Linked DNA regions of Homo sapiens. The protein of the gene in region 4 purifies or fractionates together with the protein of the main gene of each other region. This does not show direct contact. Each region holds a gene or a part of one and is shown on either strand. Other genes may lie near its edges.

Evidence for each region.
Region 1: the proteins of D2HGDH (region 4) and WDR59 purify together in Homo sapiens (affinity purification with mass spectrometry; one large-scale study listed by BioGRID and IntAct). This does not show direct contact.
Region 2: the proteins of D2HGDH (region 4) and CCZ1 purify together in Homo sapiens (affinity purification with mass spectrometry, with the first as the bait; one large-scale study listed by BioGRID). This does not show direct contact.
Region 3: the proteins of D2HGDH (region 4) and DNAAF5 purify together in Homo sapiens (affinity purification with mass spectrometry; one large-scale study listed by BioGRID and IntAct). This does not show direct contact.
Region 5: the proteins of D2HGDH (region 4) and CNOT11 purify together in Homo sapiens (affinity purification with mass spectrometry; one large-scale study listed by BioGRID and IntAct). This does not show direct contact.
Region 6: the proteins of D2HGDH (region 4) and IFT140 purify together in Homo sapiens (affinity purification with mass spectrometry; one large-scale study listed by BioGRID and IntAct). This does not show direct contact.
Region 7: the proteins of D2HGDH (region 4) and VPS33A purify together in Homo sapiens (affinity purification with mass spectrometry; one large-scale study listed by BioGRID and IntAct). This does not show direct contact.

The regions. Positions count from the first base shown.
Region 1 is NC_000016.10:74,912,124-74,915,623, forward strand, and holds part of WDR59 (GATOR2 complex protein WDR59), read right to left. Parts: intron 240-3,500; coding exon 75-239; coding exon of another isoform or gene 24-74; exon of another isoform or gene 1-23. UniProt on the Homo sapiens protein: As a component of the GATOR2 complex, functions as an activator of the amino acid-sensing branch of the mTORC1 signaling pathway. The GATOR2 complex indirectly activates mTORC1 through the inhibition of the GATOR1 subcomplex.
Region 2 is NC_000007.14:5,912,233-5,915,732, reverse strand, and holds part of CCZ1 (vacuolar fusion protein CCZ1 homolog), read right to left. Parts: intron 2,891-3,500; coding exon 2,779-2,890; intron 1-2,778. UniProt on the Homo sapiens protein: Acts in concert with MON1A, as a guanine exchange factor (GEF) for RAB7, promotes the exchange of GDP to GTP, converting it from an inactive GDP-bound form into an active GTP-bound form.
Region 3 is NC_000007.14:778,699-782,198, forward strand, and holds part of DNAAF5 (dynein axonemal assembly factor 5), read left to right. Parts: intron 1-1,254; coding exon 1,255-1,446; intron 1,447-3,500. UniProt on the Homo sapiens protein: Cytoplasmic protein involved in the delivery of the dynein machinery to the motile cilium.
Region 4 is NC_000002.12:241,751,630-241,755,129, forward strand, and holds part of D2HGDH (D-2-hydroxyglutarate dehydrogenase, mitochondrial isoform 1 precursor), read left to right. Parts: intron 1-2,449; coding exon of another isoform or gene 2,450-2,488; exon of another isoform or gene 2,489-2,560; intron 2,561-3,001; coding exon of another isoform or gene 3,002-3,034; exon of another isoform or gene 3,035-3,117; intron 3,118-3,415; exon of another isoform or gene 3,416-3,500.
Region 5 is NC_000002.12:101,255,886-101,259,385, reverse strand, and holds part of CNOT11 (CCR4-NOT transcription complex subunit 11), read right to left. Parts: intron 1,596-3,500; coding exon 1,431-1,595; intron 572-1,430; exon of another isoform or gene 1-571. UniProt on the Homo sapiens protein: Component of the CCR4-NOT complex which is one of the major cellular mRNA deadenylases and is linked to various cellular processes including bulk mRNA degradation, miRNA-mediated repression, translational repression during translational initiation and general transcription regulation.
Region 6 is NC_000016.10:1,605,573-1,609,072, reverse strand, and holds part of IFT140 (intraflagellar transport protein 140 homolog), read left to right. Parts: intron 1-876; exon of another isoform or gene 877-1,014; intron 1,015-1,775; 5' UTR 1,776-1,806; coding exon 1,807-1,953; intron 1,954-3,500. UniProt on the Homo sapiens protein: Component of the IFT complex A (IFT-A), a complex required for retrograde ciliary transport and entry into cilia of G protein-coupled receptors (GPCRs).
Region 7 is NC_000012.12:122,256,495-122,259,994, forward strand, and holds part of VPS33A (vacuolar protein sorting-associated protein 33A), read right to left. Parts: intron 1-3,500.

The DNA.
Region 1 (3,500 bases), on a different chromosome or scaffold from region 4:
TTCATTCTTCTTTACTAATCCATCTAGACAATGATGCAGAACAGCAAGGAGAATTTGGGAACCCAGACCCCCACCTTCAGCAGCTTAGCTTTCATGGTGGATGTGATGGTTGTGGGGTTAATAAACTGGAAGGAAGGGGCGGCGTTGTTTGGGTACTGTGCAGGGAACTTCACCAGCATCTTGACACGATGGTTGCTGCAGTGCACAGACACTGTGCAGCTCCTGTCTGCCGCATCCATCTGCAAGAGACAAATCCACAATTGCTGTAGAAACAAACCATAAAGCGTCTTTCGATGCAAGCACATTTAACTGAACGCTCCATGTTCCTGGTAATTGAATGAAGGGAAAGAGTCTACAAAGACAAATGTGTGTGGAAGACAATTCATTTTCAAAAAGATTCTTAAATTTTCATACCAGATTCTTAAAATTTTCAAACCAATGGAATAAGCTCAAAGTTGCTGAGACCAGCTCGGTCGGGGTGACCCTAAACCAGCAGTGCCAGAAGAATTAAAGACACACACACAGAAATATAGAGGTGTGGAGTGGGAAATCAGGGGTCTCACAGCCTTCAGAGCTGAGAGCCTTGAACAAAGATTTACCCATGTATTTATCCACAGCAAGCCAGTGATAAGCATTGTTTCTATAGATTATAGATTAACTAAAAGTATTCCTTATGGGAAACAAAGGGATGGGCTGAAATAAAGGGATGGGCTGTGGCTAGCTATCTGCAGCAGGAGTATGTCTTTAAGGCACAGATTGCTTATGCTATTGTTTGTGGTTTAAGAACGTGTTTAAGCGGTTTTCTGCCCTGGGTGGGCCAGGTGTTCCTTGCCCTCATTCCGGTAAACCCACAGCCTTCCAGCGTGGGCATCACCACCATCATGAACATGTCACAGTGCTGCAGAGACTTTATGGCCAGTTTTGGGGCCAGTTTATGGCTAGATTTTGGGGGGGGGGGGGGCCTGTTCCCAACATGTCCCCCTTCTTTGATTTGCAAAGTGATAAAAGCAAAGGCAGCTTTGTCACGGTGAGCTACTTCTTGCAGGAGTCAAGATCCACATCTGCAGACTACACAAAGACAAACAACACAGAGGGTCAGTTTATGGCCAGATTTCAGGGGGCCTGTTCCCAACACAAAGTATTCTTTTTTTTTTTTTTTGAGACAGGGTCTCACTTTGTCACCCAGGCTGGAGTGCAGTGTGGCACAATCTCAGCTCACTGCAACCTCCACCTTCTGGGTTCAAGTGATTCTCCCACCTCAACCTCCCAAATACTGGGACTACAGGCCACCATGCCCAGCAAATCTTTGTTTTGTTGTTGTTGTTGTTGTTTTGCTTTTTGTGTTTTGGTAGAGATGGGGTTTCGCCATGTTGGCCAGGCTGGTCTCAAACTCCTGACCTCCAGTGATCCACCCACCTTGGCCTCCTAAAGTGCTGGGATTACAGGCATGAGCCACCACGAAGTTCAAAGTATTCTGACTTTAACAAAGCTTCCTCCCTCCCAAAGCTGTGGGGTAGACTGAAACTTGTTATATTTACTTTGAGATGGGAAAATAAAGCAGGAAGAAGTTAAATACCAGACTCAACTTAAAAAGTGCTCCTGGGAAAATCCATAGGGGAAGAAAGTAGATTCGGGATTGCCACGGGCTGAGGGAAGGGGAAATAGGGAGTGACTGCTCATGGGTATGGGGTTTCTTCTGGGAATGATGAATATGTTCTGGAATCAGACAATGGTAATGGCTGTACAACTTTGTGAATATACCCACAACAGCCAGATTATATACTTTAAAAAGCGGAATTTTGGCTGGGCACAGTGGCTCACGCCTGTAATCCCAGCACTTTGGGAGGCCAAGGTGGGCAGATCAACTGACATCAGGAGTTCGAGGCCAACCTGGCCAACATGGCAAAAACCCCATCTCTACTAAAAATACGAAAAAAAATTAGCTGAGCGTGGTGGCGTGCGCCCATAATCCCAGCTATCTGGGAAGCTGAGGCAGGAGAATCGCGTGAACCCGAGAGGCAGAGCCTGCAGTGAGTCACGGTAGCACCACTGCACTCCAGTCTGAGCGGACAGAGCAAGGCTCCATCTCAATAAAAAAAAAAAGATGAACTTTATACTGTGTGAATTATATCTCAATAATTTTTTTAAAGTACTCTCGAAGAAAGGAATCAAGATCTTAAACTAGATCACTAGGTATCCACACTGTCCTCAAATGGGACAAAGGGAGTATAAACTGACTTGATATAGATCACTAATTAAGCAAAGAATCCTTTATATCTTTTCATTTCTTGTGTTGCCAACTAGAGACAGCAGCTGGAGTAAAGAGAAAAGAACCACATGTGGCAAATCTGGAGACCTGGATTCACATGTTGTTTCTTCCACCAAATAGCTGCTGACCTTGGACATTTCTTCTCTTGATGTCTCCGTTTCCTCAGCTGTAAAGTGAGGCTAAAACCACTTACAGCAGACTATTTTTTTTTTTTTTTTCGAGACGGAGTCTTGCTCTGTCGCCAGGCTGGAGTGTAGTGGTGTGATCTCGGCCTCACTGCAAGCTCTGCCTCCTGGGTTCAAGCGATTCTCCTGCCTCAGCCTCGTGAATAGCCGGGACTACAGGCGCACGCCACCATGACCAGCTAATTTTTGTATTTTTAGTATAGACGGGGTTTTACCATGTTGGCCAAGAAGGTGTCGATCTCTTCACCTTGTGATCCGTCTACCTTGGCCTCCCAAAGTGCTGGAATTACAGGCGTGAGCTACCGCACCTGGCCAGCAGACTTGTTTTAAAAGCCACATGAGATAGTTATGTAACAGCACATATTTGGGTAAAGGAAAAACTAATCAAGCTTTAAAACTCCTTTCTGGAGAGATACTCAATTTTCTGAAGCAAAGACTTTCAATACTTGCCCCCAAAAAAGTAACTGTTCCACAGGCTAAGCAAACAAAGAAGTTTTGGTTGCCTTCTTACTGTGAATCTAAATTACCAGGAAATGGCCAGCCTGTGAGAGAAGATGGCACAGCCCAGCACAGCACAGCACAGCACAGCACAGAGTGCCCTGGACGGGCTGGAGGTTTGGCTTCCCAAGTCAACTCTGTCCCCAACTTCAGCAGCAACCTCTGCCAAATCACTAAGCCTCCAGGGCCTAAGTATCTTCCTCTACAGTAAAATGAGATGCTGGAGCATCTAAGGAGGAGCTAAGGCACACGAGCATCAGGTTCTCCTTTGGCTCATCTTAGGAGAAAAGAATAGGGGTAGAAAGAAAGTCTGCATCTCTTTATTTACTTATTTATTTATTTATTTATTTAATTATTTTATTTATTTTTTTTGAGACAGAGTCTTGCTCTGTCACCCAGGCTGGAGGACAGTGGTGCGATCTTGGCTCACTGCAACCTCTGCTTCTCAAGTTCAAGTGATTCCTGTGCCTCAGCCTCTCGAGTAGTTGGAATTACAGGCTAATTTTTTTTTTTTTTTTTAAGTGGAGACAGGGTTTCACCATGTTGGC
Region 2 (3,500 bases), on a different chromosome or scaffold from region 4:
CTTTTCTGAGTCCTGTAGTACTTCTAGAGAACTCTTACCCTAAAGGTGGTCACGGGGACTCCCAAACTCGCAGTGGGTGTCAGAAGTGAGGATGGTCTTGGAGACTCATGAACTTTGCAACTAGAAATCACTGAACTGTACATTTTAAGTGTACGAGGGTGAGTTGTATGGTACGTGCATTGTATCTCAAAGTCATTAAGAAAAAGGTAAGGACCCTTTAACATAGCCACAATCCCATCATCACACCCCACAATATGTCTGTAGATTGACTCTAAAAATAGAAATGCAGCCGACAGCATATTACACACCAGGGTTATGGAGATTTCAGCCATTACCTGGGTCATTCAAAGGAGGATGATTTTTTTCTTGAGATGGGGTCTCAAACTTTCACTCGATACACAAACGGACATTCTTCCTACTCCAATTCCTGCTCTGAATTACACCTCCAACATTTTGGTTTGCTTTTTCAGACCACATCTTTCTGTATGCTCTTCCTGCAATCTCCCCTTCCCTGCCAGTCTGTCACAGCCCAACTTTAAGTGACTCTCAAGCACACCATGTGATGAATGAAACATCTTTTTATCTTGGCGGCTTGAACCCTAGAGCCCTCCCTCCTCCTGCTGTCACGGAGCTGCTGGAGGTGGGGTGCCGCCAGCAGACCTGAAGAGCCTTATCACCCCAAGATTTCCTTGTACCGTCTCACACATGAGAACTACTGTTCTGGATTCCCAAGTGTTCCTTCTTGGTGTGCTCACTTATTCTGCTGACGGATGACCCTGTGTAACACCCTCAGGAAAGGTGCATGACGGTAAACTTTTTGAGGCTTTTCATGTTGAACGTGTTTTTTTTTTCTTTCTGAGACAGAGTCTTGCTCTGTTGCCCAGACTGGAGCACAGTGGCGTAAGCTCAGCTCACTGCAACCTCCGCCTCGCGGGTACAAGTGATTCTCCTGCCTCAGCCTCCGGAGTAGCTGGGATTAGAGGCGTGTGCCACCTCGCCTGGCTGATTTTTTGTATTTTTAGTAGAGACAGGGTTTCCCCATGTTGGCCAGGCTGGTCTCGAACTCCAGACCTCAGGTGATCCGCCCACCTTGGCCTCCCAAAGTGTTGGGATATAGGCATGAGCCACCATGCCCTGGCTAATGTCTTTCTTTTGTCTTATCTGTGGTTGACAGCTTGGCATGGCAAAGAACTCTACGCTCAAATTCATTTTCTCTCAGAACTTTGAAAGTCTCTCTTCCACTGTCACATAATGTCTGGTGCTGGATATGAAACTGTTGATACCAGTTTCATTATTTTTGAGAGGGTTTCACTCTGTCACCCAGGCTAGAATGCAGTGGTGTGATCATAGCTCATTGCAGCCTCCAACTCTTGGGCTCAAGCGGTTCTCCTGCCTCAGCCTCCTGAGTAGCTGGGACTACACATGAGCACTGCCATGCCTGGCTAATTTTTAAACATTTTCCTGTCGACACAGGGTCTTACTATGTTGCCCAGGCTGGCCTCCAACTCCTGGCCTCAAGTGATCCTCCCACCTTGGCCTCCCAAAGTGCTGGGACTGCACCTGGCCCATTTCAATTTTATATTAATAGATACAACTCTTCTAATTAGTGGATACTAATTTTTAAAGTTCTTGTCTGTCCTCGGAATCATGTTTCTTTCGAGACCTCTAGTTTTGTTTTTGCAGCCATATTTAACAATGAGGGAACCAGAAGGCTGACCAGAGATGGAGGCTTCACTCTGAGTGTAGGATGAAGGTCTCAGTTCTGTCTGGGAGAAAGAAATGCCAGAATGAGCAGGGCCTCATTCTCAGGGGCAGACATCCACGTTAGCCACTCTGGGTCTCTTCAGACTGTTTCCTTTCTTTAAACAGACCCTCGATTGTCACCCAGGGATGGATGCTCAGCTGTGGGCCTGTCTGTGCAAGGATGGGGGAAGGGGAGGCTGACTGGCCTCTCTGCCACACTTCACTTCCCTTCCCCACCTTTCCAGGCCCAGGCCCCACTCTGACTCCTCAGGTGACCTCCTCCAAGTCAGGAGCCTCTCTGGGCTTCCACAGGGCTGTGGGTCCTTGCCTTAGCACAGGGTTGCCACTCATATTCCAGGCCTGCTCCGGCACCGCCCTCTATCAGGCATGGTTTACAAGTCCCGTCTACCTTCCAGAGAGGGACAGGACTCCCTCATCCTGACACATCCCGCTCCTTCCTGTTCCCCCACGGCATCATTTCTGAGCCTTTATAAATGAAAACTTCTCCACAGCCTCAGGCAGGAAAGAGGAGAAACACGTGCACATGCTCCGTCTTCTTTCTTGAATCAAAAACTGCCTTTAATTAGAAACACAACCTGAGTACATATCCTTACAAGACCATGTCCTGACAGAAACAAAATACAATCCTTATGGAATTAGCAAGCCTACAGCTTTAAAATCAGAGCAAAAGCAGCATATGCACAGACACGTGGCTACGGCCCCCATCCAGAGCCATTTCGAGAACAGGCAGCACCAACCTCTGACAGCCTTTGGTTTGAGAGCACGTGAGACTTCACACGTTTATAAATCACAATCTTAAACAGTTCCTCTTTCACTAATAACAAAACTGTTTAAAAGGAGCTGAAAATAAACTTATTACGCTGGAAGAACACCCATTTTGAGTTTTACCATAATCAGAACTTCCAATATCTTTTCCAAGAAACATTTAAGAGGTTTGCACATGCACTCGTGTACACATGCAAGAAAGATCCACTTCAGCACAATCATTAACGCTGGAAGGAAAACAGTTGTTACCTTATAAACGATTAAATGGAGCTCTTCATAAGTGTCATCTGTATTTACAAAAATTTTGGGGAATCTGCATTTTGCATCTGGATCATTGAGGTTCAAGGGTCCGGTAAGAAATCTTAAAAGCAAGAACAGACATGACTTGATTCAACGAGGTGAAGGAGAATCAGGAATCTAGAAACAGAACACACTCCCACTTCATACACACCAGTTGCTTTTGATGCCAGGTGCTATTTGGCAAACACCATATCAGAATATGCTGGCTGGGCGTGGTGGCTCATGCCTGTAATCCCAGCACTTTGGGAGGCTGAGCTGGGTGGATCACCTGAAGTCAGGAGTTCAAGGGCAGCCTGGCCAACATGGCAAAACCTCGTCTCTACTAAAACTACAAAAATTAGCTGGTCGTGGTGGTGGGCACCTGCAATCCCAGCTACTCAAGAGGCTGAGGCAGGGGAATTGCTTGAACCTAGGAGATGGAGGCTGCAGTGAGCTGAGATCGTGCCACTGTACTCCACACTCCAGCCTGAGCGACAGAGAGACACTCCATCTCAAAAAAAAAAAAAAAAAAAAAAAAAAAAAAAAAGGGTATGCTGAAGTAAGTTTTAACTCATTGGAAACAACAAACTTTCCTTTGTTGATTACTGTCAATCAGATGGCACAAAGATATTTCAATGTCCATATTATCTTTACCAAAAAGATAATAGGCCACGCATGGTGGATCACACCTG
Region 3 (3,500 bases), on a different chromosome or scaffold from region 4:
CTGACTCCGTCCTTCCTCCTGAGACACGTGCAGCGAGGGCACCCACTGTGCAGCGAGGGCTCCCGCCGTGCAGTGAGCATACCCCCTGTGCAGTGAGGGCACCTGCCGTGCAGTGAGCATACCCCCCATGCAGCAAAAGCACCCCCCATGCAGCGAGGGCTCCCGCTGTGCAGTGAGCATACCCGCTGTGCAGTGAGGGCACCTGCCGTGCAGGGCTGCTTCAGGGTTTGGCACCATAATGCCTGGATGTGCTCCGTGGCTTCCTCCTTGGTGCCTGTGTTTGGTGGCTGGAAGGCCCAGCACCCTCAGGGCCCAGAACCCTCAGGGAAGTGCCTGGGCATCTGCCAGGAATTAACCCACTGGGTCCCACTTGTCTCAAAGCCTGGCTTGGTAGGATGGCCTGAACTTTGGATGTTTTTCATGCCTTTCGTTACATAGGATCCTCTTGCTGAGGGTGGATCATGCCCTCCACATTGCAAAAGCATCAGAGACCCAGCCCACCCTCGCGTCTGCAGCGGGAAGATGGGCCTGGTGCCAGGCGCGGGCAGCCGCCCCTCCCAGCGTCGGGAAGATGGGCCTCATGCCAGGCATGGGCAGCTGCCCCTCCCAGCGTCGGGAAGATGGGCCTCCGGGTGGTTTTGCGACTCAGTCATCTGCGAATTTCCGGATGCTGCACAGAAGGGGGTGCCAAAGTTTTTTTAAGATGATGTAAAAAAAGCATAAATTTGATAAAAATTATGTCCATTAACCTCATAAGTTTCTACCCATCGGGAAGGATCATCCTTCTGTTTTCAGCAGCAGAAAACTGACCACAGTAGGGGGTTGTCTGTCACTGAGTCCTCAGCTCTGGTGGGAGGGCAGGGTCAGAGCTGGGCAGGGTGGCCAGCTCGGGGATCTGAGCATCTGGGAGCAGGAGGTGGAGGGCCAGGTGAGCACACAGCTGCGAGGAGGTGGAGGACCAGGTGAGCACACAGCTACAGCTACAGGGAGGCTCTGCGCCTGCAGGACAGGTTATTACAGGGGCCGCAGCAGGGCCTGGGCCGCCTCCACTCTGTTGGCTGGGGTTCAGGGGTCCCAGGTCGCCAGGAGCACCTTGCATGTGGCTCGGGATGCACGGAGTCTCCCGTGAGGTGTGGGTTTCTTAGGACCCCAGGGCAGGTGTCCCATGGGAGTATGAACTAAATGCCTTTGTGGACGTTTAGACGTGAAATGTCTGCTCTAGACTCACACACCTGTCTCGCTCCCTCCTTCCAGAACTCTTAAAACGCCTAGATGACGTGTCCAACGATGTGAGGATGGCAGCCGCCTCCACCTTGGTCACCTGGCTGCAGTGTGTCAAGGGTGCCAACGCAAAATCCTACTATCAGAGCAGTGTCCAGTACCTGTACCGAGAGTTGCTGGTTCACCTTGACGATCCAGAGAGGGCCATCCAGGATGCAATTTTAGGTGAGACTCCGACGGCTTGGCCTTCGTTCCGATGCCTGCTTTCGGCGCCTGCCACGGGCATCTGTAGCTGAGCCGTGTGACCGGCCACAGGGCCCTGGGGCACAGGAGGGGCCTCAGCTCCGGCCTGGCACACTCTTGAGTTCTTGGCAAACCCTGAGAGCGGCTGTCTTTGTGGTGATAGCTGCTGACATTTCCTCTAACAGAAATCAAAACTGAGAGTATTCTAGAATACTTGTTAGTTGTTTAAAATAACAATAGTAAGCCCAGTATATATTGACACAGATGGCTTGTGTTTTTGAAAAATACTTTCCAAAACAAAATCATCTGCAAGAACGATTTTTGCAAATGTCTTAAATGTGTAGCTTGATGGAAGACACTGGACTTTCACATCTTCCATACAGTCAGTCATGATGTGTATGGCTCTGGCTGAAATACGTGGAAAATAATCTGGCCTCGCCTGTGGCTTCAAGTGTAGTTGGACAAAAGAAGAGTATTTTAGTAGCCTTTTCAGATAGGCGTGGGACTTCTTCAATACCACGCCAACAGCGACACAGGCCGTCCCTTGAAGGTCACTCACAGCACAGGGCCTGAGGCCACACACCACAGAGCCTTCCACGCTCAGTGCATTAAAATCCGCTGGTCCATCTCACACTTGGAATGTAACGATTTGCTTTTTTTTTTCTTTTTTTTTTTTTTGTTTTGTTTTGTTGTTGGTGAATATAATGACGTTGTTCTTTTTTTTAATAAAATTTGTATTTTTAATTTTTGTGGGTACACATAGGTGTATATAAGGCATGTGTGATACTGTGATACAGGCATGCAGTGTGTGTAAATCACATTGGGGAAATGGGGTCCCCGTCACTTCAAACACTTACACTTTCTTTGTGTTACAAATAATTCAGTGATACTTTTCGTTATGTTTAAATGTGTGATAAATTATTGTTGACCATAGTCACCCTGTTGTGCTATCAAATACTAAATCTTACTCATTCTGTTTTTGTACTCATTAACCATCCCCACCTCTTCCCCCGGCCCCATTCCTCTTCCGAGCCTCTGGGAGCCATCCTTCTGCTCTATCTCCATGAGTTGAATTATTTTTATTTTTAGTTCCCACAAATGAGAATGTGCGGAATTTGCCCTTCTGTGCCTGACTTATTTCACTTAACATAGCGACCTCCACTTCCCTCCATGTTGATCCAATGACTGGATCTCATTTCTTTTGTGGCCGGATAATATTCCACTGCGTGCGCTCCACGTTTTCCTTCTCCCTTCATCTGTCCGTGGACACCCCGGTTGCTTCCACACCTTGGCTGTCGGAACAGTGGGGCATTCGGCGTGCGCGTGCAGCTCTCCCCCATAGCTGAATTCCTCTCTTTTGGGTATTTGCCCAGAAGTGGGATTGCCGGGCTGTATGGGGCTCTATTTTTAGTTTTGGAGGGACCTCCAGACTGTTCTCCCAGCGGTGCTCATTTACATTCCCACCAGCAGCGTGAGGGTTCCCTTGTCTCCACATCCGCGCCGGGACTTGTTTCCGCAGCCATTTTAACTGGGGTCAGAGGATGTCTCACTTGTTTCTATGTGCATTTCTCTGAGGAGCGGTGGTGGTGGGCACCTTTTCAGACGCCTGTTTGTCATTTCCATGCTGTCTTTTGAGAGCTGTCTGTTCAGGTCTTTTACCCATTTTTAATTGGATTATTAGATTGTCTGCTATTGAGCCTGAGCTCCTCATATATTCCAGTGATTAATCCTTGTCAGGCGGCGGTTCTAAGATACAGTCTCCCATCCCGTACCCGCGGGCTGTCCCTGCGGCTGTACTCTGCTCATTCTTCCCTTTGCTGTGTGGAAGCTTTGGGCCTGGATGTGCTGACTTTGCCTTTTGCCTCCTTTGGAAAATACTTAGACCTTCCCCGCGCAGCTGCGTCCGGTTTCCCGGCGTGGCTACATCCGGTTATGCGATGTCGGATCTTCCTGGTGTGGCCGCCTCCCGTCGCGCAGCGTCAGAAACTCGGATCTTCGCGGCGTGGCCGCCTCCCGACACGCGGCGTCAGAAACTC
Region 4 (3,500 bases):
GCTGTGGGATGAGCAAGGGGACTGCCCCATTGCTGGTCCCCTGCAGCCTGTGGTTAAGCGGCCAGTCAGCGGCAGCTCCGCATAGAGTCGTGTGGAAGGAGTGGAGGCAGGAGGAGCCCCTGGGGCTGTGGAGGCTTAGCCTGGACCTCGGGAGTCCTAGGATGGGCAGTTTTCCTTCCCTAGGAGGAAGGGGCGTTGACTGTGTGACCAGATGATTTGGCCTTTTGAGGCCAAAGGAAGGAGGGGCAAGGCCTGGGCAGGGGGAGCCCTCGGTCACCGTCACCGGGGCCTGGGCAGGGGGAGCCCTCGGTCACCGTCACCGGGGCCTGGGCAGGGGGAGCCCTCGGTCACCGTCACCGGGGCCTGGATAGTGGGAGCCATTGGTCACTGTTACCGGGACCTGGGTGGGAGGAGCCCTCAGTTACCTTCACCGGGGCCTGGGCAGTGGGAGGCGCCCTTGGTCACCGTCACCAGGGCCTGAGCAGTGGGCGCAGGACTTTACTCCCGCTTAGTTGATTTCAGGCTCGTGTTAGCCTGGGTGTTGCCCTTGCCATCTTCCCCCCTCACCTTTGCCGCCTGACTGTCATGATTCCAGTGCTTCTGGGCAAAACGGTGTCTGCTCCCAAGGGCTGGGGTGCGGTCGGCTGGGCTCACTTGTGTGTCCTGATGCCCAGCCCAGGGGCGTCCTCTGGGCGAATGGCAGCTGTGTGGTGCCATCTCTGTTGACTGAGGCATGATCAAGTGTGCGTCCTTCCTAGGTCTCTGCCTGCCATTCCTGCATTTTTCTAAGTGGACTGTGACAGTCAGCTCCCTTACATTCTGCCGCAGTAACAAGCAATCCCCAGGCCCCAGGGACCACACGAACAGAGGCTCACCCTCCCTCGCGTTCCGTGTGGGTGATCGCTGTGGCTGCATGTGCTCCTGTGGCTTCCAGTCCAGGGGCCCGGGCTGAGGCAGCTGCCCAGCCAGTCAGTCTGTTTTCCCAGCAGAAAGAGCAGGACAGCCGCCGGGGATTCTCTCAGCTTCTGCTTGAGATGGGGCGGGAACGTGAGCCCAACTGCCCTTGGTGGTGCGGGTGGGGACCCTCATCCCGCACTGGCTGCTTTGCTGGAGTGGCAGTCAGTCATGCAGCCCCCACACCACCCCCAGGAGGGCGACCCTGGCACCCCAGCCTCCACACATCAGCCCCCATGCCCCCACAAAGGAAGGCTGCCCCCAACACCCCCAACCTCTCTACCAGCCCCCATGCCACCCCCAGGGCGGGCCGTCCTCCATGCCCCCAGCCTCTGCACATCATCCCCCACGCCACCCCCAGGGCGGACTGTCCCCAACGCCCCCAGCCTCTGCACATCAGTCCCCAGCCCCTCCACAGCCTGGTCCAGTCCTAGACCTGTGCCTTGAACATTAATGCCCAGAGCCGGGTTCATGACCAGGACAGGGCCGAATGGGGCTGGTTCTGTGTTCACAAAGTCACCTCCAGACGCTTCCTGGGACGGGTTCAGGAGACGCCTTGTGTGTCTGTCACCTCGTTCTGGCTCATGCTCGACGGGTAGGTAATCTGGCCTTTGTTTTCTGCAGATAGCAAAACGACCCTTTCTTAGGTGTGCGGCTCGATGAGTTGACCCGGATATGCGGTTGTGTGCAGTTGCTCTGAGGCTTTTCTGTGCTGTTGTCCGGTGTTGGCGAGGCTCTGGGCAGGTCCTGAGGCTTTTCTCTGCTGTTGTCCGGTGTTGGCGAGGCTCTGGGCAGGTCTGGGCAGGTCCTGAGGCTTTTCTCTGCTGTTGTCCAGCATTGGCGAGGCTCTGGGCAGGTCCTGAGGCTTTTCTCTGCTGTTGTCCGGTGTTGGCGAGGCTCTGGGCAGGTCCTGAGCCATTCTGCTTTCCACTCTGTGGTCTTTCCCTTCTGGGAGCCCTGGGTTTTTGGACATGTTGAGACAATGGGGCTTGCGCAGGTCCAGCCGCTGCCGCGGGGGCCCTGTGTTCAACGGGGGACACTCAGCCCTGCCCAGGCCCCGCTGTAGCCTCAGCCCACCCGAGTGGAAGCCACACTGGTCGCACCAGATGCCCCGGGCTCCTCTGAGTAGTGACCACGGCGGGTCTCATTGGCACTGCCTATCCACCCGTCACGTGTCATTCAGTTAGCAAACCTGCTAGGGAGATGCCTCCTGTGCCCTGTGCCTGCCGGGCGACAGCAGTGACCAGGGCGGGAGAAGCCTTGCCCCATAAACTCACGCAGCAGAAGGAACAAGCTCAGCCCATGGCCCCTCAGAGCCAGGAAGCGCCGGGGAGGAGGGCAGGGCCAGGCAGGGTCATGGGGTGTGCCGGGGAGTGCCGGGAGGGCCGGAAAGATGACCCTGAGGGGTCATTTCAGCAAAGACGGGGTGTGGGGAGCAGAACGTCTGGTGCAGGAGCACCAAGACCCTGAGGGGCGCGTGCCTGCCATGTTCTAGAACCTTCCAGAGATGGTGGGTGTGGAGCTGAGTGACTGAGGCGTGAGCAGACAAGGGTAGAGCCCATCTTGTGGCCACGGGGACACATGGGGCGGCCGGTCTGATGAGGAGGTAAGAAGGCCTCACAGGCAGCCGATGCCCGCCAGACCATGGAGGCGAAAGCCGGCCTCGCAGCCGTGCCCGTGCGGCTGTGACGAAGGGACCGTAGGAGGGGCTCTTGCTCAGGGCAGGGCGTGACCCAAGGGTCTGATCTGACCGAACTAGCTCTAGAAGTTTGTAAAAGGGGCCGGGCACGGTGGCTCATGCTGTAATCCCAGAGCTTTGGGAGGCTGAAGCAGGAGGATCACTTGAGCCCAGGAGTTTGAGACGAGCCTGGGCAACATCGGGAGACTTCAAAAAAACAAAAAATTGATGGTGGGGAAATGCGGGAATTTTGGGCGCCGGCCGGATTCCCAGTGGTGGCGAGGAGGTGGTATTTTTTTAAGTGTCAGTGTGGCATTGTGGTTGCCTCAATAAAACAGAGTCTTTTTTTGTCTTTTTTTTTTGAGACAGGGTCTCGCTCTCACCCAGGCTGGAGTGCAGTGACACAGTTGCAGCTCACTGCAGCCTCGACCTCCTGGGCTCAAGCAATCCTCCCGCCTCAGCCTCCCGAGTAGCTGAGTCTACAGGTGCCCACCACCAAACCCAGCTGATTTTTATTGTTTTTAAGAGACGGGGTCTCCCTGTGTGGCTCAGGCTGGTCTGAAACTCCTGGGCTCAAGTGATCCTCCTGCCTCAGCCTCCCAAAGCTCTGGGAATACAGGCGTGAGCCACTGCGCCCGGCCAAGTGTTTCTCTTAGAATTTCCTGAAATGATAGGGTCTCTGGAGGGGCAGGTGCTGGGCTTGAGCCCTGGGTAGGACCCTGCAGGGGAGAGGTGGTCCTGCAGCCCACAGAGGATGGCTCTGTCCTGTTCCTCATGGTGCAGATCTCCACAATGGAAGTTCGAAGCAAGCAAAAGCCACGCAAACCACAGGCCGATCTGTCTGAGCCCTAGGATTTGGCCCGGTTCT
Region 5 (3,500 bases), about 140 Mb from region 4:
TTTGCTTACAGGTTTAACACAGAATGTGCCAGAACAATCCTGAACGAGAACAAAGTTGAAAGTCTCATACCTCCCGATTTCAAAACTTAGTACAAAGCTACAGTAATCAAAACAGTGTGGTACTGGCAGAAAGACAGACATATAGACAAATAGAATGGAATAGAAAGCCCAGAAATAAACCCTTGCATATATGGGCAAATGATTTTCAACAAGGATGCCAAGAGAACGTTGGGTTTTGGCTATTCAGCATCCCGAGACAGGTCTCACGATATTGTGCAGGCTGGAGTGCAGTGGCGCAATCACAGCTCACTGCAGCCTCGATCTCCCAGGCTCAAGTGATTCTCCCACTTAAGCCTCCCAAGTAATTGAGACCACAGGCATGCACCACCACGCCCGGCTAAGTTTTTAATTATTTGCAGAGACAAAGTTTCCTTATGTTGCCCAGGCTAGTCTTGAACTCCTGCCCTCAAACGATCCTCCCACTTTGGCCTCTCCCAAAGATTACAGGCATGAGCTACTATGCCAGCCTTTCTTTGGTTTAAAGATGGATTTTTCTTTTTTTTTTTTTTTTTGAGACAGACTCTCGCCCTGTCACCCAGGCTGAAGTGCAGTTGCACAATCTCAGCTCACTGCAACCTCCAGCTCCCAGGTTCAAGTGATTCTTGTGCCTCAGCCTCCCAATTACAGGTGTGAGCCACTGTGACTGGCCGGATTTTTCTATTTCTGCAAAAAACACTGTTGGAATTTTGACAGGAATTGCACCAAATCTGTTGATTGTTTTGGGTAGTATTGACATTTTAACAAATAGTAAGTCTTCCAATCAAAACTTAAAAAAAAACCCACTAAATTTTATCCAGCTTTCTTCTAAAACAGAAAAAGCAATCAATTCAAGTGAAAACTCCAAATGAATTTACATGCTATTAGCATCCAAAAATTTAAAGAGTTCCATTTATTTATTTATTTATTTATTTATTTATTTATTTATTTATTGAGATGGAGTCTCACTGTAGCCCAGGCTGGAGTGCAGTGGTTTGTTCTCAGCTCACTGCAACCTCCACCTCCCGGGTTCAAGCTATTCTCCTGTCTCAGCCTCCTGAGTAGCTGGGATTACAGGCGTGCTGCACCACCATGTCTGGCTAATTTTTTGTATATTTAGTAGAGACAGGGTTTCACCATGCTGGCCAGGCTAGTCTCAAACTCCTGACCTCAAATGATCTGCCCACCTCAGCCTCCCAAAGTGCTGGGATTACAGGTGTGAGCCACCGTGCCCAGCCAAGACTTCCATTTAAGATCCAGTACTAAAACTACTTTTTAAAATGGATGATACTAACCTTTTAGCAGTTACAAAAAACATCATTTTAGTAGAGTCCTCAACAAGAGAGGCCTAATATTACCACACAGAAATGCCCAAAACACTGATTCCTCCTTACCGGCCAAGGCTAACTGAAGCCCACTAATGTCCACAGACTGGCCCATGTTTCCAACGTCCATCAGTGCAATCTGGCGAGGCGTCTTTTTGAAGAGTTCCCGTGGGGGTGCCAGCATCAGCTGGGAAAGAAAAAACTTTTCTGGTGGAGTTATAGGAGGTAAAAATCCTGCAAACAAAAATGTATAACGATTTCTCCAATGGTTACTTTTAAAAATCAACTTGAATCTGGTAAAATCAGTACTTGCTACTTGCCACTTCAAGCCACATAGTTTTAAGAACTAAATTATGATTAAGTTTCAGTCAACCAAATATATACATTTACAAACTATGTAATATGTCATTTGAAATTCTATGATCTGTGGCCCTACAAATGAAACTTAAGGTTTTTGTACTTGTTAACTGTAAGAGTTAAAGAAAGAGGAAAGAAACACAAAACGCAGCCTGGCAGTCAAAGACAGGTTTTCTTTAGTTAAAACATCGGCCAGGAGTGCTTCTCAGGTTCTAACTAAAGAAAATCTGTCTTTGACTGCCAAGCTGCGTTTTGTGGCTTTTTTTTTTTTTTTGAGATGAAGTCTCACTCTTGTCTCCCAGGCTGCAGTGTGATGGCATGATCTTGGCTCACTGCAACCTCCACCTCCCGGGTTCAAGAGATTCTCCTGCCTCAGCCTCCCAAGTAGCTGGGATTACAGGCACCTGCCACCATGCCCAGCTAATGTTTGTATTTTTAGTCGAGTCGGGGTTTCACCATGTTGGCCAGGCTGGTCTTGAACTCCTGACCTCAGGTGATCCACTCGCCTCAGCCTCCCAAAGTGCTGGGATTACAGGCATGAGTCACCGTGCCCCGCCTGGTGTTTCTTTCCTCTTTAACTCTCACATTAGTAACTTCATTTTCTTTTCTTTTTTTTTTTGAGATGGAATCTCGCTCTGTCGCCCAGGCTGGAGTGCAGTGGTGCAATCTCGGCTCACTGCAAGCTCTGCCTCCTGGGTTCACGCCATTCTCCTGCCTCTGGCTCCCGAGTAGCTGGGACTACAGGCGCCCGCCACCACGCCCAGGTAATTTTTTGTACTTTTTAGTAAAGACAGGGTTTCACCGTGTTAGCCAGGATGGTCTTGATCTCCTGACCTCGAGATCCACCCACCTCGGCCTCCCAAAGTGCTGGGATTACAGGCGTGAGCCACCACGCCTGGCCCAATAACTGCATTTTCTAAAGTGCCTCAATTCCTGCAAAGGCTAAAGCTTATATATGCAAACAAAAACAGACAACACTATAGTGCTCGGAAATGCTTTTCTTTCTTCTCTGTTTCCACTGTGTAGAAGTTGAATAAATAGAAGAGCAACCAGCAGCTATCCAAATACACTACCTGATTCAACACACAATGCAGCTACAAATTCCCACAAGGCTGAATGTTCCTTCCCTTTTGTCCCATGTTTAATTGCTCATGAAGCCTCATCTCTCCCACTGCAGAAATGTCACCAGGCTGCATTCCCTCAGATGTAGTCCCCACGCCTCTCTTGCTGGGACTACTCCTGCCCCCTCTACTGACTTCCCCAGCTCCCAGTTTTGACCCCTGCTCACCCACCACCCATAGTCCATACTTCCTCTTACCATTTAGTTATATCTCTAGAGTACAAATCTGATCACATTACTTAACCTGTGTACACAGAATTAAACCCAGATTTCTACACCATTACAAGACCCTTCAAAATCTGGTCCCACCACACCTTCCTAATCTCACTTCTTGACCTTCTCTCCCATCCATGTACCCTACACCCCGGTTGCACAAAATCCCTCAACTTCTACACTATTTTTTTTTTTTTTGAGGCAGTCTCACTCTGTTGCTCAGGCTGGAGTGCAGTGGCGCGATCTCAGCTCACTACAGCCTCCGCCTCCCAGGTTCAAGCAATTCTCCTGCCTCAGACTCCTGAGTAGCTGGGATTACAGGAGTGCACCATCATGCCGGGCTAATTTTTGTATTTTTTGGTAGAGATGGGGTTTCGTCATGTTGGCCAGGCTGGCTTCCAACTCCTGGCCTCAAGTGATCTGCCTGCCTTGGCCTCCCAAAGTGCTGG
Region 6 (3,500 bases), on a different chromosome or scaffold from region 4:
AGCGATTCTCATGTCTCAGCCTCCTGAGTAGCTGGGATTACAGGCAGGCACCACCACACCCAGCTAATTTTTGTATTTTTTAGTAGAGAAGAGGTTTCATCATGTTGTCCAGGATGGTCTCGATCTTCTGACCTTGTGATCCACCCGCCTCGGCCTCCCAAAGTGCTGGGATTACAGGCATGAGCCACCATGCCTGGCCAAAACTCATTTTAAGAGGTAATCCCAGCTACTTGGGAGACTGAGGCAGGAGGATCACTTGAGCCCAGGAGTTCAAGGCTACAGTGAGCCATGATCACACCACTGCTCTCCAGCCTGGGGGCCCTGTCTCTAAACAATATATATTTTTTAATTTAAAGGTTTCTTTTGCTATTTTAAATTGCCCAGGTTTTGATCTGGAGTGTTTGTTTGTTGTTCGGGTTTCTTTTTTTTTTTTTTTTTTTTGAGGCGGAGTCCTATTCTGTTGCCAGGCTGGAGTACAGTGGCGCGATCTCAGCTTACCGCAACCTCTGCCTCCCAGGTTCAAGTGATTCTCCTGTCTTAGGCTCCGGAGTAGCTGGAATTACAGGTGCCTGCCACCACACCTGGATAACCTTTTGTATTTTTAGTAGAGGCGGGTGGCGTTCGCCATTTTGCCCAGGCTGGTCTCGAACTCCTAAGCTCAGGCAATCTGCCCACCTCGGCCTCCCAAATTGCTAGGATTACAGGCATGAGCCTGTATAATTTTAAATGGTGGCAAACCCGGCTACAAGTATGTTCTTCTCTGCCAGTTAACTTCCCCAAATTGACTGAGGTGTAAAAAAGTGAGCAGTAACCAGACCGTCACTTTATTTATCACCCTAACCCGCCTGAAAAGGGACGATGTGTATATCTTTTCCAGATCTGAAAGGAAGAATGAAAGAGAGAGATTAAGTTCACGTAAGTGATCAAGCTCAACTTCTCACAGCTGCTGCGGCTGTGCATTCTTGACTCTCTAATAGAGGAAGACTTCTGTCTTCTACCACCTGTGAGTCAGAGGTAAAAGACAGTCTTTGATTTTATGCTTTATTGGAAATTCAGTACTGGTTTTTTTTCTGTACCAGTACTCTTTTCTGGAGCAGTTTGCATTTATTTTGTTTGAAAATGTTGTTTAAAAGGCAGTGGTGGCCCACGGCTGTAATCCCAGCACTTTGGGAGGCCAAGGCAGGAGGATTACCTGAGCCAGGGGTTCAAGACCAGCCTGGGCAACATAGTAAAACCTTGTGTCTACACAAATTACTTAAAAATTAGCTGGGCATGGTAGTGCATGTCTGTAGTCCCAGCTACTTGAGAGGCTGAGGTGGGAGGATCACTTGAGCCCAGGAGTTTGAGGCTGCAGTGAGCCGTGATCACACCACTGCACTCCAGCCTGGGTGACAGAGCAAGACTTGGTCTAAAAAGTTAAAGGGAACTACAGAAATAGAACTTGTCCTTATTGTGACTGGAATGAAAGTTACTGAGGATTGCGTGTGTAGTTAGGCTGCAGGCCTTTTCTTTCTTTCCTCCTTTGATGGCCATGAGTTGTATTCGTTTCTGTCACAGCCTGGGTGATTCCGGGTCTAACTGCTTCTCTTCTGCATGTCTCCCTGTTGGAGATCTCCTCGCATCAGGTTGCCTGCTCAGTCCGCAAGGCATTTTCAAGTTGCCGATGGTCTTCCGATGGTGGCTTTGGGATGCTTCCTTTTCGTCATTCCATGTACAGTCATATTGTTTGTTTTATTTAAAACTGATTGGACTTGGTCATTTTTTTTTCCCTGCAGGTTTCAGCGCTGAGGAGGCCTGAGTTCCGTCATGGCCCTCTATTATGACCACCAGATAGAAGCCCCGGATGCAGCAGGGTCACCCTCATTTATCAGCTGGCACCCTGTCCATCCATTCTTGGCAGTTGCTTACATCAGCACAACCTCAACAGGCAGCGTGGATATTTACCTGGAGCAAGTGAGTGCTCAGAAGCAAGGAGCCTGACTGTGGTAGCTTCTGGCTCATGTTGTTTGTGTTGCTGTTGTCCTTGTGTGTGTGCACATGTGTGTGTGTGCCTATGGGTGTGTGTGTGTATACATGCATCTGTGTGTGCGTGTATGTGTATTGGTGTGTGTATGCGCATATGTATGTCTGCATCTGTGTGTGTGTGCGCACACGTGGGTGTGTGCATATGGGTGTGTGTGTGCATCTGTATGCTTGTATGTGGGGGGGTGTATGCGTGTGTGTGCACACGTGTGTGTGTGTGCGTGTGGTGCGTGTGTGTATTTTCAAACGAACTCTACTCTAGCTTATTCATGAAGAAAACGACATCTATGAGGCCAGGCGCAGTGGCTCACGCCTGTAATCCCAGCACTTTGGGAGGCCGAGGTGGGTGGATCACTTGAGGTTAGGGGTTCGAGACCAGCCTGATCAACATGGAGAAACCCCATCTCTACTAAAAATACAAAATTAGCCGGGCATGGTGGCTCATGCTTGTAATCCCAGCTACTCGGGAGGCTGAGGCAGGAGAATCGCTTGAACCCAGGAGGCAGGGGTTGCAGTGAGCGGCGATCACGCCATTGCGCTCCAGCCTGGGCAACAAAAGCAAAACTCTGTCTCAGAAAAGAAAAAAAAGAAAACGACATCCGTCATCAGTTTTCACAGAGGCCAAATCCCAGGGTTATAAAAGCCCTAGTATGTGGGCAGTTCTTTCACGCTGGCTATTTTGGTGGCTTGGGGACATGTTTAGGAATCCTTCATGCTTATCAGCATTAAGCCACTATCAGTTCACAGTCATCACCAGAAATGTCCCCACAGTGCTGTTTGTGGATCCTGAGGCATCTTCCTCTGTCAGTGCCCTCCTGCACGCTCCATAGGGGCCATTTGGAACTCTAATCATTTCCACAAACTGGGTGGCTTTAAACAACAGGAAGGTATTCTGGCAGCTCTGGAGGCGAGAACTCCAAAATCAGGTGTCAGCAGGGCCCGCTGGCTCTGAAGGCTGAGGGGAGTGTCTGCCCCGAGCTGCTGTCCTGCTCCTGCTGTTCCCAGCAAGCCTTGGTGCTCCCTGGCTGGCAGATGCGCTGCTCCAGCCCTGCCTCTGGTGTCATCCGGCCTTCCCTTCTGTATGTCTGCGTCTCTTCTCCTCTTCCTAAAAGGACATCAGGCATATGTAACTAGGGCCTGCTCTAATGACCTCACCTGAGCTTACCCACATCTGCAAAGACCCTGTTTCCAAAGGACGCCATGTCACAAGGACCAGGGATAGGACTTCCACATATCTTTGTGGGGACACAATTCACCCCCTAACAGAAACGTTCCCCAAGCTCCTCAGACTTCGATAATCACCCTCTCGGTGCCCAGTGCACCTCATATTCCATAAAGAAAATGAGGTGCCAGGTGCGGTGGCTCACGCCTGTAATCCCAACACTTTGGGAGGCCGGGGTGGGTGGATCATGAGGTCAGGAGATCAAGACCATCCTGGCTAACACGGTGAAACCCCGTCTCCACTAAAAATACAAGAA
Region 7 (3,500 bases), on a different chromosome or scaffold from region 4:
ACTGGGGAGGTGGAAGTTGCGGTGAGACGAGATTGTGCCACTGCATCCCAGCCTGGGTGACTGAGTGAGAATCTGTCTCAAAAACAATTAAAAAAAAAAAAGTTCTAGTCTCCAGAGCAGCAGCAGCGGCACCAGCAGCAGCAGCATCATAAACTCATAAATCAAAGAAACATGGGTAAGTGTGATTATGTTAAAAACATACACACAGCCAAAATTACCAGAAGCAATGTCAAAAGAAATGACAAAGGCGAACGCAGCCTACAAAGGGCGCATGTGCAGAGGGGCCTACAAACAGGCTCATTCTCGGCAGCACTGCCTCCAACAGCGTAGAGAGGAAAAAAATGCTCTCCAACAGAAAGCTGATTTAATACATTATGTACATCCAAACAATGGAACTCTATGCAGCTTCAAATGAGAATAAACAAGTATTGCCATACGTGGTAGAAAATGACTCAGAGATATTATTAAGAGAATAACGCAACATACCAAAGTATATATATCATATGCTACTACTTGTACAAAAGTGGGGAGGGATTATATACTATGAGCTGTAGCTGCATATAATATCCCCCCACCCCAAATTAAAAGAGAAATAGTGATTGCTTCTGGGATAAGGGGCAGTCTGAGAACTGGGGTAAAAAGTAGCTTCAGGCCAGGCACAGTGGCTCACGCCTGTAATTCCAGCACTTTCAGAGGCCGAGGCAGGTGGATCATCTGAGGTCAGGACATCGAGATCAGTCTGGGCAACATGGTAAAATCCCGTCTCTACTAAAAATACAAAAATTAGGCGGGCGTGGTGGTGGATGCCTGTAATCCCAGCTACTTGAGAGGCTGAGGCAAGAGAACTGCTTGAACCCAGAAGGCGGAGGTTGCAGTGAGTCGAGACTGTGCCACTGCACTCCAGCCTGGGCAACAGAGTGAGACTCTGCCTCAAAAAAAAAAAAAAAAAAAAAAAGGGCCGGGCGCAGGTGGAAGCTCAGGAGGCTGGACAACACGGTGAAACCCCGTCTCTACTAATACACAAAAAAATTAGCTGGGCGTGGTGGTGTGTGCCTGTAATCCTAGTTACTTGGGAGGCTGAGGCAGGAGAACTGCTTGAACCTGGGAGGTGAAGGTTGCAGTGAGCTGAGATTACACCAGTGCACTCCAGCCTGGGTGACAGTGTGAGACTCCATCTCAAAAAAAAAAAGATTTTCTTCTTTGTCTGCAGAGTGGAAGATTTATGAAGACTCAAAAAGCACAATCTAAAAGAACAAAAGTGATATATTTACCTGCTTTAGGGTGAAGGACTCACACTTCTGATTTCAAAGCTTATGGCAAAGCTACTGTAATCAAGACAGTGTAGTACTGGCATAAGGACGGACATACAGACATATAGATCAGTGAAACAGAACTAAAAGACCAAAAACAGACCCTTACATTTGTGGACAATTGATTTTTGACAAGGGTACCAAAACAATTCAATGAGGAAAATACAGTCTTTTCAACAAATAGTGCTGGAACAAATAGATATCCATGTGTAAAAAATGAAATTTGGACACCCACCTTGCATTACATACAGAATTAACTTAAAATGGGTTGAAGACCTAAACATAAGATGTAGAAAAATTATAAGCTGGGCGCGGTGGGTCACACCTGTAATCCCAGCACTTTGGGAGGCTGAGGCGGGAGGATTGCCTGAGCTCAGGAGTGTGAGACCAGCCTGGGCAACATAGTGAGACCTGTCTCTTTAAAAAATAAAAAATTATAGAACTCTTAGAAGGAAACATCAGAGTGAATCTTTGTGATCCTGGGGTAGGCAATGGCTTCTCAGAGATGATACTGAAAGCACAAGTAACAAGAGAAAAACTGGATAAAAGAGACTTCACCAAAATTTAAAACTTTAGTGCATCGAACGACACCAATCTCACCAAGAAAGTGAAAAGAACTCACAGAACAAAAGAAAATACTTGGAAATCATGTATCTGAGGAGAGACTTGCATTTAGAATCTATTAAGAATTCTTACAATTCTGTAATAAAAATGACAGAACCCAATTTTAAAAATGGGCAAGTGATCTGAACAGACATTTGTTTAGCTGAAGACAAAGGCCAACAGGCACAAGAAAAGATGATCAACATCCTTAGTCATTATGGAAATGCAAATAAAAACTACAATGAGACACCACTTCATACTCAGTAGGATGACTAAATTCAAAGAATAACAGGCCAGGCATGGTGGCTCACGCCTGTAATCGCAGCACTTTGGGAGGCTGAGATAGGTGGATCACCTGAGGTCAGGAGTTCAAGACCAGCCTGACCAACATGGCGAAACCCCATCTCCACTAAAAATACAAAAACTAGCCAGGCGTGGTGGTGCATGCTTGTAATCCCATCTACTCAGGAAGCTGAGGCGGGAGAATTGCTTGAGCCTGGGAGGCCGAGGTTGCAGTGTGCCAAGATCGAGATCGCACCACTGTACTCCAGGCTGGGTGACAAAGTGACAATCCATCTCAAAAAAAAAAAAAAAAAAAAAGACAGAATAATAAGTCTGTCCATGTGGATATACAACTGGAACCCTCCCACACTGCTGCTGGGAGTACAAACGGTACAGCTTCAGTGCAAAAGAGTTTGGCAGCTCCTCCAAATGTTAAATGCAGAGTTACCACAACTCAGCAATTCTACTCCTAGGGGTGTGTGTGTGTGTATGTATGTGTGTATGTATGTATGTATGTATGTATGTATGTATGTATGTATGTATTTTTGAGACAGAGTTTCACTCTTGTTGCCCAGGCTGGAGTGCAATGGCGTGATCTCAGCTCACTGTAACCTCCACCTCCCAGGTTCAAGCAATTCTCCCGCCTCAGCCTCCCAAGTAGCTGGGATTACAGGCATGCGCCATCATGCCTGGCTAATTTTGTATTTTTAGTAGAGACGGGATTTCTCCATGTTGGTCAGGCTGGTCTTGAACTCCCAACCTCAAGTGATCCATCCACCTCAGCCTCCCAAAGTGCTAGGATCACAGGCGTGAGCCACCACGCCCAGTCTCTACTCCTAGGTATATCTAAGAGAAATGAAACCATACATCCACATAAAAACTTTTCACAATATTCACAGTATCGTGACAGCCAAAAAGTGGAAACAACCCATCAGGTGTCCATCAGCTGATGAATGATAATATCATTACAATGGAATACTATTCAGCAATAAGAAGGAATGAAGGCCTCGCGCAGGCTTCAACCTGGGTGAACCCTCAAAACATTACACTAAGTGAAGATGCCAGACACAAAGGACCATTTATGTATTATAGAATTTCATTTCTAAAAAATCTCCAGAATAAGTTCAAAACCAGCCTGGACAACATAATAAGACGCTGTCTCTCCAAAAAATAAAAATAGAAAAAAAAAGAAATTAAAAAAAAATTAGCCAGGTGTGGCGGCACATGCCTGTAGTTCCAGCTACTCAAAAGGCTGAGGCTGAAAATTCGTTCAAGCCTAGGAGGTCAAGGCTGCAGTGAGGTATT